Homo sapiens: one gene and its partners. The protein of the gene in region 3 purifies or fractionates together with the protein of the main gene of each other region. This does not show direct contact. Each region holds a gene or a part of one and is shown on either strand. Other genes may lie near its edges.

The links. The genes of interacting proteins can lie anywhere in the genome.
Region 1: the proteins of ARL2BP (region 3) and HMCES purify together in Homo sapiens (affinity purification with mass spectrometry; one large-scale study listed by BioGRID and IntAct). This does not show direct contact.
Region 2: the proteins of ARL2BP (region 3) and POGK purify together in Homo sapiens (affinity purification with mass spectrometry; one large-scale study listed by BioGRID and IntAct). This does not show direct contact.
Region 4: the proteins of ARL2BP (region 3) and ELF2 purify together in Homo sapiens (affinity purification with mass spectrometry; one large-scale study listed by BioGRID and IntAct). This does not show direct contact.

What each region holds. Positions count from the first base shown.
Region 1 is NC_000003.12:129,285,370-129,288,869, forward strand, and holds part of HMCES (abasic site processing protein HMCES), read left to right. Parts: intron 1-3,484; coding exon 3,485-3,500.
Region 2 is NC_000001.11:166,838,034-166,842,274, reverse strand, and holds the start of POGK (pogo transposable element with KRAB domain), read right to left. Parts: upstream 2,801-4,241; 5' UTR 2,671-2,800; exon of another isoform or gene 2,506-2,670; intron 2,421-2,505; exon of another isoform or gene 1,762-2,420; intron 1,321-1,761; 5' UTR 1,319-1,320; coding exon 1,187-1,318; intron 1-1,186.
Region 3 is NC_000016.10:57,244,025-57,248,058, reverse strand, and holds the start of ARL2BP (ADP-ribosylation factor-like protein 2-binding protein), read right to left. Parts: upstream 2,801-4,034; 5' UTR 2,692-2,800; coding exon 2,654-2,691; intron 2,267-2,653; exon of another isoform or gene 2,248-2,266; intron 2,245-2,247; exon of another isoform or gene 1,980-2,244; coding exon 1,918-1,979; exon of another isoform or gene 1-1,917. UniProt on the Homo sapiens protein: Together with ARL2, plays a role in the nuclear translocation, retention and transcriptional activity of STAT3. May play a role as an effector of ARL2.
Region 4 is NC_000004.12:139,167,219-139,170,718, forward strand, and holds part of ELF2 (ETS-related transcription factor Elf-2), read right to left. Parts: intron 1,639-3,500; exon of another isoform or gene 1,549-1,638; intron 825-1,548; exon of another isoform or gene 684-824; intron 1-683. UniProt on the Homo sapiens protein: Isoform 1 transcriptionally activates the LYN and BLK promoters and acts synergistically with RUNX1 to transactivate the BLK promoter. Isoform 2 may function in repression of RUNX1-mediated transactivation.

The sequences.
Region 1 (3,500 bases), on a different chromosome or scaffold from region 3:
TATTGTTTGTTCTAATTTTTGGATAAGGAAAGTTGAAGGCCCAAGAAGTTGAGACTAGTCCAACCTCATAAGTAGCAGAGAAAGGATTTTTTTTTTTTTTGAGATGGAGTCTTGCTCTGTTGCCCAGGCTGCAGTGCAGTGGCACAAACTCGGCTCACTGCAAGCTCTTCCTCCCGGGTTCACGCCATTCTCCTGCCTCAGCCTTCTGAGTAGCTGGGACTACAGGCACTCGCCACCACGCCCGGCTAATTTTTTTTGTATTTTTAGTAGAGACGGGGTTTCACCGTGTTAGCCAGGATGGTCTCGATCTCCTGACCTCATGAGCCACCTGCCTCCCAAAGTGCTAGGATTACAGGCATGAGCCACCGCGCCCGGCCCAGGATTTTTTTTTTTTTCCATCAGAGTCATAGAGTGCAGTGGCACAATCTCAGTTCAATGCAACCTGCACCTCCCGAGCTCAAGCAATTCTCATGCCTCAGCCTCCCGAGTAACTGGGGTTACAGGCACACGCCACCACACCCAGCTAATTTTTGTATTTTTAGGAAAGATGGGGTTTTGCCACGTTGGCCAGGCTGGTCTCAAACTCCTGACCTGAGGTGATCCGCTCGCCTCAGCCTCCCAAAGTGCTGGGATTACAGGCGTGAGCCACCATGCCTGGCTCAGAGAAAGGATTTTTGAACCAGGATCTCCTTACAAAGACCTTGATCTTTCCTCTATACCAGGGATTGGCAAACTACGGTCCTCAGACCAAATCTGGCCTACTGCCTGTTTGTATAAAGTCTTATTAGACCACAGCTGCTATGGTTTGAATGTTTGTGTCCTTGAAAAATGCATATGTTGAAATCCTAACCCCCAAGATGATGGTATTAGGAGATAGGACCTTTGGGAATCAAAGCCCTCATGACTGGGATTAGTGTCCTTATAAAAGACACCCCAGAGATACCATGTGACAACATAGTGAGAAGGCACCATCTGTGAACCAGAAAGTGGGCCCTCACCAGACACCAAATCTGCTGGCACCTTAATCCCAGCTTTCAGAACTATGAGATAAATCATATAGTATCACTCATGCCACATTCTGTTGGTTACAAGCCCGTCCAGATTCAAGGGGAACGAACATAGATTCCCAATTCTCAATGGGAGGAGTGTCAGATTTTGCAACCATTTTTTGAAAACTGCCACAGACTTCTCACTAGTATCAGAAATTCAACATATGATCTTCATAAAACATTTCATCAGCATTTTTTCTTCTCTGTTCAGTAGTACCATCATTATTTCACTCTTCTGGGCTTGAAAACTTAATCATCCTTGCTTTTTTTCATCCAAATCCATTTGTACTACAATTTCTTTTTATTTTTTTTTAAATCTTTTGGATGTCACTGTTTTTCTCACTGCCATCACCAGACCCCTGAACCATTGTAGTAACACCCCAAAATGCACTCTCTGCTCACTGGTCTCTCCCAACCCAGAGTGTACTGTGCCATGCAGAATAATGTGTATGTGCTGCTTAATCTGTAGATTTCATCAAATTATCAAGGGGCCCATTACTTAAAAAAAGTTTGACAACCATGCGTTGGGAGTCCCCAAGACTGCCCCCATATTTAGAGATTCATTAGAAGGGCTAAGCATATAAGGCATAGTGTGTCTAAGGTTTATTAGTAAAAGGACGCAGAATAGAATCAGCAAAGGAAAAAGACACTAGTAGAAATCTGGAAAAAGTCATGCACAGGTTTCCTTATGTTTTCCTTCCTGTGGGAGGATACTGCAAGCATGTTACTTTCTCCAGCAACGAAAAATGTAGTAATGTATATGTACAGTGTTTTTGTTTTTTTTTGTGGGGTTTTTTTGTTTTGTTTTGTTTTGTTTTTTTTGAGAGAAGGTCCTGCTCCGTGGTCCAGGTTGGAGTGCAGTGGCTCAGTCACAGCTCACTAGCAGCCTCAACTTCCCAGGCTCAAGTGGTCCTCCTACCTCTGCCTTCTAAGTAGCTGGAACTACAGGTGCATGCCACCACACCAGAATAATTTTTTTTTTTTTTGGTAGAAACTGGAGTTTGCCATGTTGCCCAGGTTAGTATGTACAACGTTTATGCCCAGAGAAACCCATTAGAGACTCAGGGTCCGAGGTTTTTATTGGAGGCTGATCATGTAGGCACTCTACCAGATACCTAGCAGGTACCAAAATTTCAGACTCCCAGAAGGAAAACAGGTGTTGGCATAAACTTTATTGTTTACACAGACTAGGCGGAATAAACCACCCTTATGAGTTGGGGAAAAGTGGGAATACTCTCAAAATCTAGTTCTGAGTTGTTGAGGGCCAACCTTGTATATAGGTTTTCCTAAAAATAGCATCCTCCAGTGCTTTGAGAGACCGAGGCAGGAAAATCACTTGAGCCTAAGAGTTCGAGACCAGGCCAGGCACAGGGGCTCATGCCTGTAATCACAGCACTTTGGGAGGCTGAGGCGGGTGGATCACAAGGTCAGGAGTTCAACACCAGCCTGGCCAGAATGGTGAAACCCCGTCTTTAGTAAAAATACAAAAATTAGCTGGCGTGGTGGTGGAAGCCTGTAGTCCCGGCTACTCGGGAGGCTGAGGTAGGAGAATCGCTTAAACCCAGGAGGCAGAGGTTGCAATGAGCCAAGATCGTGCCACTGCACTCCAGCTTGGGCAACAGAGCGAGACTCCGTCTCAAAAAAAAATAAAAATAAAAAAATTCGAGACCTGCCTGAGGAACATAGTAAAACCTCATCTCTACAAAATTAGCTGGACATGATGGTGTGCACCTGTAGTCCCAGCTACTTGGGAGGCTGAAGCAGGAGGATCACCTGAGCCCAGGAATTCAACGTTGCAGTGAGCTATGATTGTGCCACTGCACTCCAGCCTGGGCAACAGAGCGAAACTGTCTCTAAAAAACAAAAAAGTTTAAAGAAACTAAACCTCTTTGCATCCCTCTACCTTATTCAAGCAGAATGTCTTACATTCTAGTAAATATGATTGCTAAAGAACTCAAGTTACCTACATCATGATAAGTCATTAAATTGTTTTTGGCTGGTTGTGGTGGCTCACACCCACAATCCCAACACTTTGGGAGGCTAAGGTGGGCAAATCACTTGAGCCCAGGAGTTCAAGACCAGCCTGGGCAACATAGCGAAACCCCATCTCTATAAACAATACAAAAATTAGCTGGGTATGGGGGGGCGTGTGTCTATAGTCCCAGCTACTTGGGAGGCTGAGGTGGGAGGATGGCTTGAGCCAGGAGGTAGAGGTGGCATTGAGCCAAAATAGCGCCACTGCACTCCAGCCTGGATGACAGAGCCAGACCTTATCTCAAAAAAAATAAAAAAATTGTTTTCAAGTAGATTCCCTGTTTAAAAATAATCTTGAATTCTTTATATTTCAATACTCCTAAATAATGTAATAAATACATATGTTAAATTAGGTTAGAATTTCATTATGATCTCCTCACTAGATCTTCTCTCCGTGGCAGGATGCAGACTCATCTG
Region 2 (4,241 bases), on a different chromosome or scaffold from region 3:
CTTCCTCACTGTCCCAACATTCACTTTCATTGCACCTGTTCTCCAAGGCTCTCCATTTAGATGTTCTGGGTTGACCAATCTAGCCTCAAAGCCCTGAGTTTTGACTGCCTTGAGTTCTTGTTCCAGGCTAAATAGACCTGACGCCTGCTTGGATCAGAATTGGGAAGAAGGATGTGGTGGGCAAAGAACACTGATGAGACAAAGGCAGCGCGGTGTCCACAGCTAGACTGGCAAACTGAGAGCCTGTGGTTGCACTGTTTTTTTTTTTTTTAAATTAAGGTATAGCATACATATGGTAAAATGCATTACTTTTAAGGGTGCAGCTCAGGAGACCTGTTTTGAAGAACAAATGTCAGTGTTCATGTGTAACCTTAGGGCAAGGCAGATAATCTTTCTGCATCCCAGTTCTCTCCTCTGGTAGGGAACAATTTAGAAGTACCATGCTTGTATGGATAGGGGCTCTTCATGGAAGCAAAGGATACTATGTATACTGACAATGTTTATACACAACGGAAAATAAGCAGAGAAAAGGAATGTCAATTTGTTGCTTATTTAAAATGTTTACTATTCATGCCTAATTACCACGAAGTCCAGTAACTACGGTGAATAACTATCTGTAACTATAAGTATCTACTGCATTTGCATTTGTATAAACCGACCTCTATCATACTATTCTGCGTGTATACCCTGAATCTCTGTATTCCCTGCTGCCCACCATTTCTATCCAGGTCAGCTGGACAGGCAGCTCTCCTGTGTCAACTGTGGTAAGAGGTGCTCACACAGAACCAACTAGCCTAACCTCTCATGTCAACCCAATGACTCGAGTCTTATTTAAAATGGTTCCCTTCAACCAGCAGTAAGTCAACAAACATTTACTTGGTGCCTACAATGTGCCTGGCATCAAACGCAGTGCAGGATAAGTGGGTGAACGAGAGAGACAAGGTCCTGGCTTCTAGGACTTCCAATTGAACGATGACAAGCTACATGGCTGAGGGACTGTTTCCATAACACCTCCTCCATTCTTTGCACTGCCTTTTAAAGCCACAGAGCTGTTTTCTCAGGAATGCAAACACACCGGGCTGGGCTATTTTTACTTCCCACGTCTGTCTGAGGAGGAGACTTAAAGCAAGCTGGGCTCTCAGGCCTGCATCTGCTGGCTGTGTGGACTCCACACCTTCTTACTTACCCATCCGCCCTCAGAGCAGATTCGTACTTTCTGCATGTCTGCCGGGCCGTCCTCTAGTTCCCGGCTCTGAATCTCTTCTTCCTCTTCCTCTTCTTTCAGGCTCAAATTGAGAGGGTAGGCTGTGGACTCCATCTCTGCAAGCAAGATTCAGGTTCAGAAAAACCAGGTGTCACTGTGACCTCCCCAAAGCCTATGATGGGGGAGGCTGAGCCACATACAAACCTCTTTAGCCCCAAGCACTGTTCCCGCTGGAGGGAAGTAAGGAAACAAGAGTCGGCCAGGAAGCTACAGGGTGACATGTTTAATTATGATAAGAGAGGCTGTGGGTAGATAACGTATCTGGCTGCCTTCAAATATTTAAAAAGCTATCTGGGGAAGAGAACCCAGACTGGTTTGTAGAGACTGGACGGCAGAACAGAGGCCGGCCAGTGGATAAATACTCCTGGAAAAGGTTTTAAGCAGTGAGAAAGGCAGTACTTTCTCACAGCCAGTGCCACCCAAACAGGAATCAGAGGCAGGGGAAAGGTGCTGATTTCCTATCAGTGAAGGTGTCTGAACACAGATTGGACACTTACTCAACTGGAATGGGTGCTAGAAGCCAGTTAAGCATGGGCGGAGCGGTTGGCTCAGTAGGCCCATTGCCTGGATTTTCCAAATTCAAAGGTTCTGTCCACGAGCTGGTTCAGAAAATAGGGTCATTCTACCTTAAGGGACTTTGCAAACGCAGGAGTCAGTGAAACATAGTGAGGGTTATGCCTGGATACCCAAAAAGGTGCAGAAATCGGCTGGGGCCCACCCCGACAGGGAAATAACCCATTGCCTCTGGGCTGCAAATTCTCTATTCGCTGACTCTTGGCCAGTACAAAGGGCCGCACTCCTGCCCTCTATGGGCGCGGGCAATTCCTAGGTGTGGAGTGCGGATGCATCTTGAGGGCTGCATCGGGGAACCTCCAAAGAAAAGATCCCTCTGGAGTTCAAAGTCGGTTCCTTCGATATTTCCAAAAAAGATAGGCGAACGCGGCATGGATGGGTCTAGGCTTCAGATGCCTGCAGCTGGGGCCCGAACTTGGCGGCGGTCTCCCTGCCGGCTCCGGGGCAGAGGTGGGAGGGGCCGCCTCCCCGCGCTAAGGTGCCGCAACCAGGGCCGCCGCCCGCCCTGCCCCGCCTGCGCCACCGCCGCCGCGCCCCCGGGCGCGTTCGGATTTCTCCAGCCATCTTGCCCCATTTCCCTTTCTCCGCGGAACCGCGCCGGGAGCGCTTCCGCTGCCCCCTCCGCCCGGCCCGCCTCCCCACCTGGCCCCCTCCCGGCCCCAGCGCACCTGCCGGGCGGCGAGAGCCGGCGCCGCCCGCCTCCCCGGCGGGCCCGCAACAAAGGCGGCGGCGGCGGCGGCGCAGCCTCGGCGCCCCCGCCTCTGCCGCGGCCCAGCCGCCCGGGACCCGGGGGAGGGGCCGCGCCGCCGCCGCCCCCGCCCGCGCGCACTCACCGCCGGGCCCAGCGGCCAGGGCGCGGGGTGGGGACGCGAGGGCTCCGGCCCGGCTGTCACAGCGCCATCCTTTCCGCCTCTCCGTCCTCCCGTGCGCGCGGCCCCTCGGGAGGGAGCGGGGAGGACACGTGGTGGGAGGAGGGAGGGTCCGGCCCGGAGCTGAGGGTGTTGGGAGGCGAGGGGAGGAGCGCGGCTGATGTCAGCAGGCCTCGGCGGCGCCGGGGGACGGCGCCCGCGCGAGCTCCGGGGCCCTCCTCTAGGCGCGGCTTCCGGCCGGTCCGGGCAGTCCCTGGCGGGCCTGGGTAGCCGTGCCCTCGGCCTTCCCCGCCCCGCCCGATGCAGGCCGCTTCCAGTGCTGCGTGTGACCTCGGCGTGGACGAGGCAGGAAGAGCCCAGATTGATTTTAACCGAGCGTAGCGTGGGCGCACAGTTCCATGTGCTCATTTGCAGTCACCAGCGGGTTGCACTTGCTTGGACGAGCTCTCCAGGCGTTCTCGCCGTGCTTCAGGCAATGAAAGGCTAGACCGGCAAGAGCGTGTAGGGGCATGAGGAGGGGTCTTTGGGGAAGAGTATTCGTATTCTGGCAGCGGGCTCCTGTCCAGAACTTCGTCATATACATGGAGAAGGAACTTCCTGATTTTTGTAGCTGTTGCTTAATATCCCAAGCATGTAATTCCTTGGATGAAGTGGGTGTATAGAAGGACCTTTCTTCTCCAAAACGTCCAAAGGAGTTGTTTACTCTCAGCTCTGTGGGCAATACAACAAAAGTGACCTGAGAAGCCCTGAAGCCCTTTTCATTCCAGAAAAAGATTCTGGGTATGGGTTTTTGTTGAGAACTTGTTGAAGAAAAAATTATTCTGACACTTGTTAAAACAGTAAGGAAGACTTTATACAGGGTTATTGCTATAGGTGTAAAGATGATCACACTGGGGGGAGAGATGAGGTCTAACACGGAATACAGTAAGGACAGCTGGGGATGTATAGCCAAGGAGCAGAACGAAGGGGTCAGTAGATGGAAAGTTACTGATACGAGACATCAAGCACCTAGAGGGATTCTTGCTGAACCCACTTAACAGGATTCTTGCTGAAGGCAGGCTAGGGCGATCAGATATCAAGGGTGGGGGAATGAGAAATTTGATCAGATATCCAGGGTGATCAGATATCAAGGGTGGTGATTTCTCTCTAACCTAACTTAGCAGGGTTCTTGCTAAAATAGAGCTGGGCAGGCCAAAGGTTCGGGGTGAGTGGTCAGGGGACCAGGGTGGAGGCCTGCTGAAGAAGAGGACTTAAGCCTGATTAAACTTTGGTCAAGGAAAGAGTCCGTCAAACTCTTCAGATTGTCTCTGAGACCTGAATATCTGTTGGAAAAGACCTGTCTTTCCAAGTTTTTGTGGCCACTACTACTTACATGTGAATTTTACTTCTCTCAGTCATGGGAGAGGTCACTGTGCACTGTGCTCTTAACACGTAAAATGTAGCATGACATAACGTACACATCTTGGAAGTGCAATCACGGTGACAACCCAAGACCGTAGAAGATCTAATCTGTGGGTGGAAAAGATCGTTCAAAT
Region 3 (4,034 bases):
TACAGGTGTGAGCCACCGCACCCAGCCCTGTTTTCTTTTTAAATTGTGGTGAGATATACAATTTTTTTTTATCATTTTAATGTTTAAGCACACAGCTCAGTGGCTTTAAGTATGTTTACATTGTTGTGCAATGATCACCACCATCCTTCAGTCCATTTTAACCATATCCACACAGGGTGGCTTGGGAACTCCCTGACATTACTTTTCTGAAAAGGAATGAATTGGTTCTCTCTTATTTTGATATAACTTCCACAGCAGTTGTGGAAACAGTGTAGTGATTAAAATTATGGGGTCTGAAAGAGGCTAGCCCGTCTGGGTTCGAATCGCATCTCAGCTACTTACTAATTGTGTGACCTTGGGTAAGTTACTTAATTTCTCTAACCCCCATATAAACACATTTATCTGGAAAATAAGAATGGTTTATGGTAGTTATCATATAGGATTGGAAGTGGAATTTAGATGAGAATTCATGTAAATAGATTAGTTCATAGTGAACACTTAATAAATGATAGGGAATAGGGAATTTTTTTTTTTTAATTGAGACAGGGTTCTCCCTATGGTGCCTAGGCTGGTCTCGAACTCCTAGACTCAAGCAATCCACCTGCGCTGGCCTCCCAAAGTGTTGGGGTTATAGGTGTGAGCCACCGTACCCATCCCGGAATAAGGAATTTTAACAACTGAATAGATTATTTCTAAAAATAAAAGGAAAGTTTCAGAAAGGACCCAGACTTTGGGATAAATACCGTAGGCTCACAGAAGGCTCATTTTCCCATAGCATATAGGGTATAATAGGCAAGAGAACTGAATGGATTCTTCAGTATTCCCCAGAAATCCCCAAGTCCACATGGGAAACGAGCTTAATGATGAAACATCTATATTCAGGAGTTAAGGGCATGAACCTTTATACCTGAAGGTATAAAAACTTGGTCAGTAATTTTCATTCTAAATGGATTAAGCCATACAGCCAATAACACCAAATAACAGTGTTCTTTTCTCAATTCTCATAAAACTTAAAGTCAACAGAATTTTCTCAAATGTAAGTTTTCCCCTCCTACATACTTGTCTTAAACCTCTGGGGACTGTTACTGCTTCTCTGTTACTTAGCAGGTTTCATGGATGCCCAAATACATCCACAAGTAGGAACTCAAAACCTAGGAAAATACAGAACCAGCTGAAGCTTAATACCTTGTTTTCTTTATGGCCATGTGTGCTTATGGTTATGGTTTTATGTGTTTATTTTCATTTTTATTTTTTCCAGACGGAGTCTCGCTCTGTCGCCCAGGCTGGAGTGAAGTGGCACGATCTCGGATCACTGCAAGCTCCACCTCCCAGGTTCACGCCATTTTCCTGCCTCAGCCTCCTGAGTAGCTGGGACTACAGGCGCCCGCTACCACGCCCGGCTAATTTTTTTTGTATTTTTAGTAGAGACAGGGTTTCACCGTGTTAGCCAGGATGGTCTTGATCTCCTGACCTCGTGATCCGCCCACCTCGGCCTCCCAAAGTGCTGGGATTACAGGCGTTAGCCACCGCACCTGGCCTGGTTTTATGTGTTTTATGGCATGAAAATGTTAAAACTCAAAACTATCTAAAATTGAAATTGCTCTTACCCTACATAAGAAATAGAGTAGATCATTATTTCCTATAGTTTTGCGAAGAACGCCACACTGCTGGTGCCCTATTAGCCTGAGTCAGTCCCTTCCAGCCTCTGAATCTATGCTTATTAGATGTTTTCAGGAGTACTGGGCTGTTTGTTTCTAAGACAAACTGCAGTAAGCCTTTACTTAAGTATTACATTGTGCTACATTAAAAATTGCAGGCAGCTTGATGTTTTCTCTTTTTAAAATTAACTCTCCAAATTGATTTCAATGTCCTTAAAGAAACAAGCAAGTCCTTAAAAACAGTATCTTAAAAGCTTACCCATGATAATGTCCTCTAAATATCCAACCACAGCATCAAATTCTGCATCAGAGGCGGAGGAGCTGAAAAACATGCCTGGATTAGGTGCTATTTCAAATAATGCATTAAAAAAATGTTTTTAGTATGGACGTTTTCAAACATGCACAAGAGAAAAAAGAGTAGCAAAACGAACTTCCCATCACCCATCTTCAACGATTAAGAATGACTGACTGATCTAGTAAGTCCAAACAGAAGAAAACACACTCGGCACGTTTGTGACATGAACGTTCAATGTCATGACTCCACTTTAATAAAAACTTGTTCTCCAGGCTCTTAGCTATCACCCCATACCTGTCTGCTTGTGAGCATGAACCCGGCACGGGCGAAACACCTGCCGGGGGGGGTCATTTGGTCAGGAGTCCGGGAGGCGGGGGCCAGGGAGGGGTGGAGGGGCCTCGGGCGCTCAACCCCTCCAGGCTTTGCTGACAGCTGAGGGTTGGCGGCTGGGGATTGTGATGGAGGCGCTGATCAACGGTGACACCCGCCTCGCACTCCTGTCCTGCGGGGCCTGAAACCTGCAGCCTTAGTACTCTACAAAAGGAAGGCCTGGAGCTGGGACGGCGCCTTGGCGGCCCCCACCCTGCCCGGCCCGGCCCGGCCCGGCCCCTAAGGACACCTGTTTTATAGGGTCAGGCCCCGGGGCGAACGCCCGCTGCCTCCGGCCCCAAGTCGCCTGCGCCCTGGAGGAGCTACTCACAAAGACAGCGCAAAGCTCTCTCCTTCTAAGGCGTCCATCGCAGTCGCCCCGAGTAGGCTCCAACCCCGCCCGCGGCCCAACTCGCATGCAGGGCGCGGCCGCCCGGCGGGGTTAAGGCCTCTCAGCCAAGGCCGCGGCCAGCTCACTGCCAGGTCGGGTCAGCGCCTGCGCGCCAGGTCCGGCCTTGGATACCCTCTGCCGCCACGCGTCGGTCCGGCCTCTACGCCCGCCTGGCCCTCTGCGCGCGCCGCCGACGCCGCAGGTCCGGGCCTCGGTGACTGCCGGAGGGGCGCGGCGCCCCGCCTCCTGTCACCATGGCCACCGCAACCCCTTCCACCGCCTCACGGCCGGCCGGCATCCAATCACAGGCGAGCGTTACCGATGCCGGGGCGGGGCAAGACAGGGAGAGGAAGTCCCGGAAGGGAGTGCGGAGGGATGCGGCGCTTCGGCGAGCACCCGTTGTGTGGGAACTCCGTCTCAAGTCGCCCCCATTGTACGGATGAAGGAATCGAAGCCACGAGCCAGAATTTCCTCACTCGCAACTCGAGAATAAATTGCGCCTCCCTGAGTGTGGAGGATTAAATAAGTAGTTTAAGGCGTGTTTAAAGAGCGCTTGTAAGTTGCCAAGTCGCTGGAGAGCCAGTCCCTTATCCCTTGAACCAGGTGATGCTGACGTCTGATTTCAAGACAGTTCCTACCCCTCGTGGAAGGAAAGCCCCATCGCAAGAAGTCGATGTCCTGTAATTTACGTTATAATCTTCGCATCATAAAGATTACTCGGCAGTAATTGGTTTCTTGACTAATTATACAAGATGAGAATTGAAGAACTATTTTGAGCCACGCAATCAGGAATCAGATACCTTTCAGGAAAAGGCCTCTTCAAAACTGCCAAACTTTGAAAAAGGATTCGTTTGAGCTGATTTCTCTTGATTGGACAACTAAGCATTGTGTCTCTTTAGTTGCATGATACCTTATGGCCAAAGTGTGGTATATGACTAGAGGAACTAGAGGGGTTTAAGGTATGAACTGAGGGTCAGGTGGCCAGTCAGAATGGGTTAGCAGACATTTTTTATTTTTTTGAGACGGAGTCTTGCTCTGTCGCCCAGGCTGGAGGGCAGTGGCACGATCTCGGCTGGCTACAACTTCCGCCTCCCAGGTTCAAGCGATTCTCGTGCCTCAGCCTCCCGAGTAGCTAGGATTACAAGTACGTGCCACTATGCCCGGCTATTTTTGAATTTTTAGTAGAGACAGGGTTTCACCATGTTGGCCAGGCTGGTCTCGAACTCCTGACCTCAGATGATCCACCTACCTTGGCCTCCAAAAGGGCTAGGATTACAGGTGTGAGCCACCACAACCGGCCTAGCAGACATCTTTGAATGGA
Region 4 (3,500 bases), on a different chromosome or scaffold from region 3:
ACCAAGACTTTGACTGGAATATCTTATTTAAGAATGTGCACACAATGTCTGGGTTCAGGTGTTCCCATTCCTACAGTGAGAGAATATAATCTGTCACTTCTTGGCCAGCCCAGGAACCTTAAGGCTGTAGGTGAAATCTAATGTCTCCCTTGGTTTGGCTTCCTAGTCTTGAAGGGTTTATAAATCTGAGATTTCTTTGTGGTCAACAGCTATTCTTGCTGCATTTATGTAAATAATCAGACAAAAAACTAATAAAACTATTTTATAAACAAATTTGTCTTATTCTGATTGGTAGAAACTGGGATGACTATAAAAAGTTATGCTTCTAAAGAAAAACTACTGTATCTATTATTAGACTGTAGCCCTGTACACTGTATTTGAGTTTTTATTATCTACCTGCAAACTGGCCTAGATCCTAAATTCTTCTAGGTTCCTCCAATCCAACTTTCTTCCACAGAATTATTAAAACAGAAATTGCTCTGTTCCTGAAGCCCTATAAGCTGAAACTCGATGAATTTTAAGGGACAAGTCTGGTACTCGAAGTCTGAGCCACACAGAAAAGTTCACCAAACTGCCCAATGCCTTAACCAGAGACATTCAAACTGCAAACCAGGATGAGAAGTCGATGGTTCCGCACTGTAGACAGGTTTTCCCAAGATAATTGAACAAGGGGAGACTCTTACCCCTCTTAAGGCGTAGCTTTTTCACTTGGCAAGATAATGTTGTAACTGAAATTTCACAATCAGTAGCTTCTGCTGGTAACTTGACAGAACTTGACCTAAGAGATCCTTCAGTCCACCTAGTGGGTGACTCTGGCAACATCCCTAAAAAAATTATTCACACTCTGCTTTAATTCAACCCAGTTATGGAATGCCGAATGATAACAATGCTCTGCATTAGCTATTGGTTAAGTAAAGAAATGTCTGTGCTATTACTAATACTACATGATTTACCTGGATAAATTCCTTTGAGGAAGTTGAGACTCATACGCAAAATAAGAAAACAGATCACATGGTTACAACAGGTCTCATCTAGTTCTCCATGGTCACTTGGTTTCTTCAACTGACTGCCTTTAGGTCTAGCTTCATGGCTCAAAACCATTATGTAAACTGGTATTATATTACTATTAATTTTACTTTGTATTTTCCTTTTTAAACTTTGTACATGTTATTTGTTACATTTCTGTAGTAGTACAGAATTATACTGACCCAACAGAATTATACTGGGCTGGCCCTAAACCCTGAGATGATAGCCTACATTTAAGGAACAGACAAAAACTGATCTTAATAATGGATTCCCGGCAGACTTAGCCTGAGAATCACTCCCTCCAAACTTCCCTTGTGTGCTCAAATGTGACTGAAAGGGTCCTGACACTGACTCCTAGTTTGACAAGCACTCCCTCCAACATGGGACCATACCAACAACCCAGGACAGGTCCATCCTGGCACCTAAAGATAATTAAAACCTAACTACAAGATGATTGATCAGTGATGCTTCCAAAGAAAGATCCCTTTTGTTTTATTTGTTTTTTTAGAGACAGGGTCTCACCATGTTGCCCAGGTGGGTCTCAAACTCCTGGGCTCAAGCAATCCTCCTGCCTCTGCCTCCCAAAGCGCCAGGATTACAGGCATGAGCCACTGTGCCTGGGTCCAAAGAAAGATTTTGATCAAAAGGGGGAAAAGTGAAAGTTGTTAGAATTAAAATTGAGTCATTTGTGTTAAAAGCCCTGACAAATGGAGCCAGGGAAGGCCATGAAAGGAGGGTTCTCATGCATGAATACCTGATTAAAAAAAAATAACTATTGCCCGGGCATGGTGGCTCACGCCAGTAATCCCAGCACTTTGGGAGGCCGAGACAGGCAGATCACGCTTGTAATCCCAGCACTTTGGGAGGCCAGGGCAGGCAGATCACTTGAGGTCAGGAGTTTAAGACCAACCTGGCCAAAATGGTGAAACCCCATTCCTACTAAAAATACAAAAATTAGCCAGGCATGGTGGCGCAGGCCTGTAGTCCCAGGTACGTGGAAAGTTGAGGCAGGAGAATCACTTGAACCCGGGAGGCAGAGGTTGCGGCAAGCCGAGATCGCACCACTGCACTCCAACCTGGGCTACAGAGCGGGACTACATTTAAAAAAAAAAAAAAAAAAAACTATCACAAAAAAACTCATAAAGGCCACAACCCTGCACAAAGGCAACTGCAACCTTACACAAAAAAATACTTCTGCAAGGACATCTGCCCAGTAACTTCATGTCCAACCTCAGACTGGCATCACTCTTGTCACTGATCTTTATAGCCAAACATAATTGATTTAAAACAATGATGTAATCTTCCTCATTTTTCCTTTAAAAATCTGTCTTGGCCGGGCGCGGTGGCTCATGCCTGTAATCCCAGCACTTTGGGAGGCCCAGGTGGGAGGATCACGAGGTCAGGAGATCGAGACCATCCTGGCTAACACGGTGAAACCCTGTCTCTACTAAAAATACAAAAAATTAGCTGGGCATGGTGGCGGGCGCCTATAGTCCCAGCTACTCGGGAGGCTGAGGCAGGAGAATGGCGTGAACCCGGGAGGCGGAGCTTGCCATAAACTGAGATCTCGCCACTGCACTCCAGCCTGCGCGACAGAGCGAGACTCTTGTCTTAAAAAAAAAAAAAAAAAAAGCTATGTCTTCCTTTACCTCCCTGAATATGCACATAGTTTACTACGGTATGCATATTCCCATTATAATGCCCATTCCTGAATAAATACTGCTTTCTTTCAGAGGGACTGTCTTTTACTTAGGTTGACAGAACCATCTGTATGTAAAAGATGAATTTAGAACCTTATTTCTCACCATACACAGAAATTAATTCAAAATAGATGATAAAATCTAACTGTTAGAGTTAAAACTATAAAACTTCTAGAAAGCAGAAAAATCTCAAGATCTTGGATTAGGCAGAGTTCTTACATAAGACAACAAAAGTATAATCTATAAAAGAAAAAATTTAGAAACCACACTTCATCAAAATTTAAACTAATTACACTTTAAAAGATCTTAATCGCCTTTTTTTTTTTTTTTTTTTTTTTGAGACAGAGTCTCGCTCTGTTGCCCAGGCTGGAGTGCAGTGGTGCGATCTCGGCTCACTGCAATCTCTGCCTCCCGGGTTCAAGCGATTCTCTGTCTCAGCCTCCTAAGTAGCTGGGGCTACAGGTGCACACCACCACACCCGGCTAATTTTTGTATTTTTAGTAGAGATGGGGTTTCACCATGTTGGCCAGGCTGGTCTCGAATGCCTGACCTCATGATCCACCAGCCTCAGTGTCCCAAAGTGCTGGGATTACAGGTGTGAGCCACCACGCCCAGCCACCAATTTTTTAAGCAATGAAAAGACCAGCAACAGACTGTAAAGAAATATTGGCAGATCATGTATCTACTAAAAAACTTACATCCAGAATATATTTCTAAAAAAAAAAACTTCTTATAACTCAATAAGTCAAACAACCCAATTATATTACATTACAT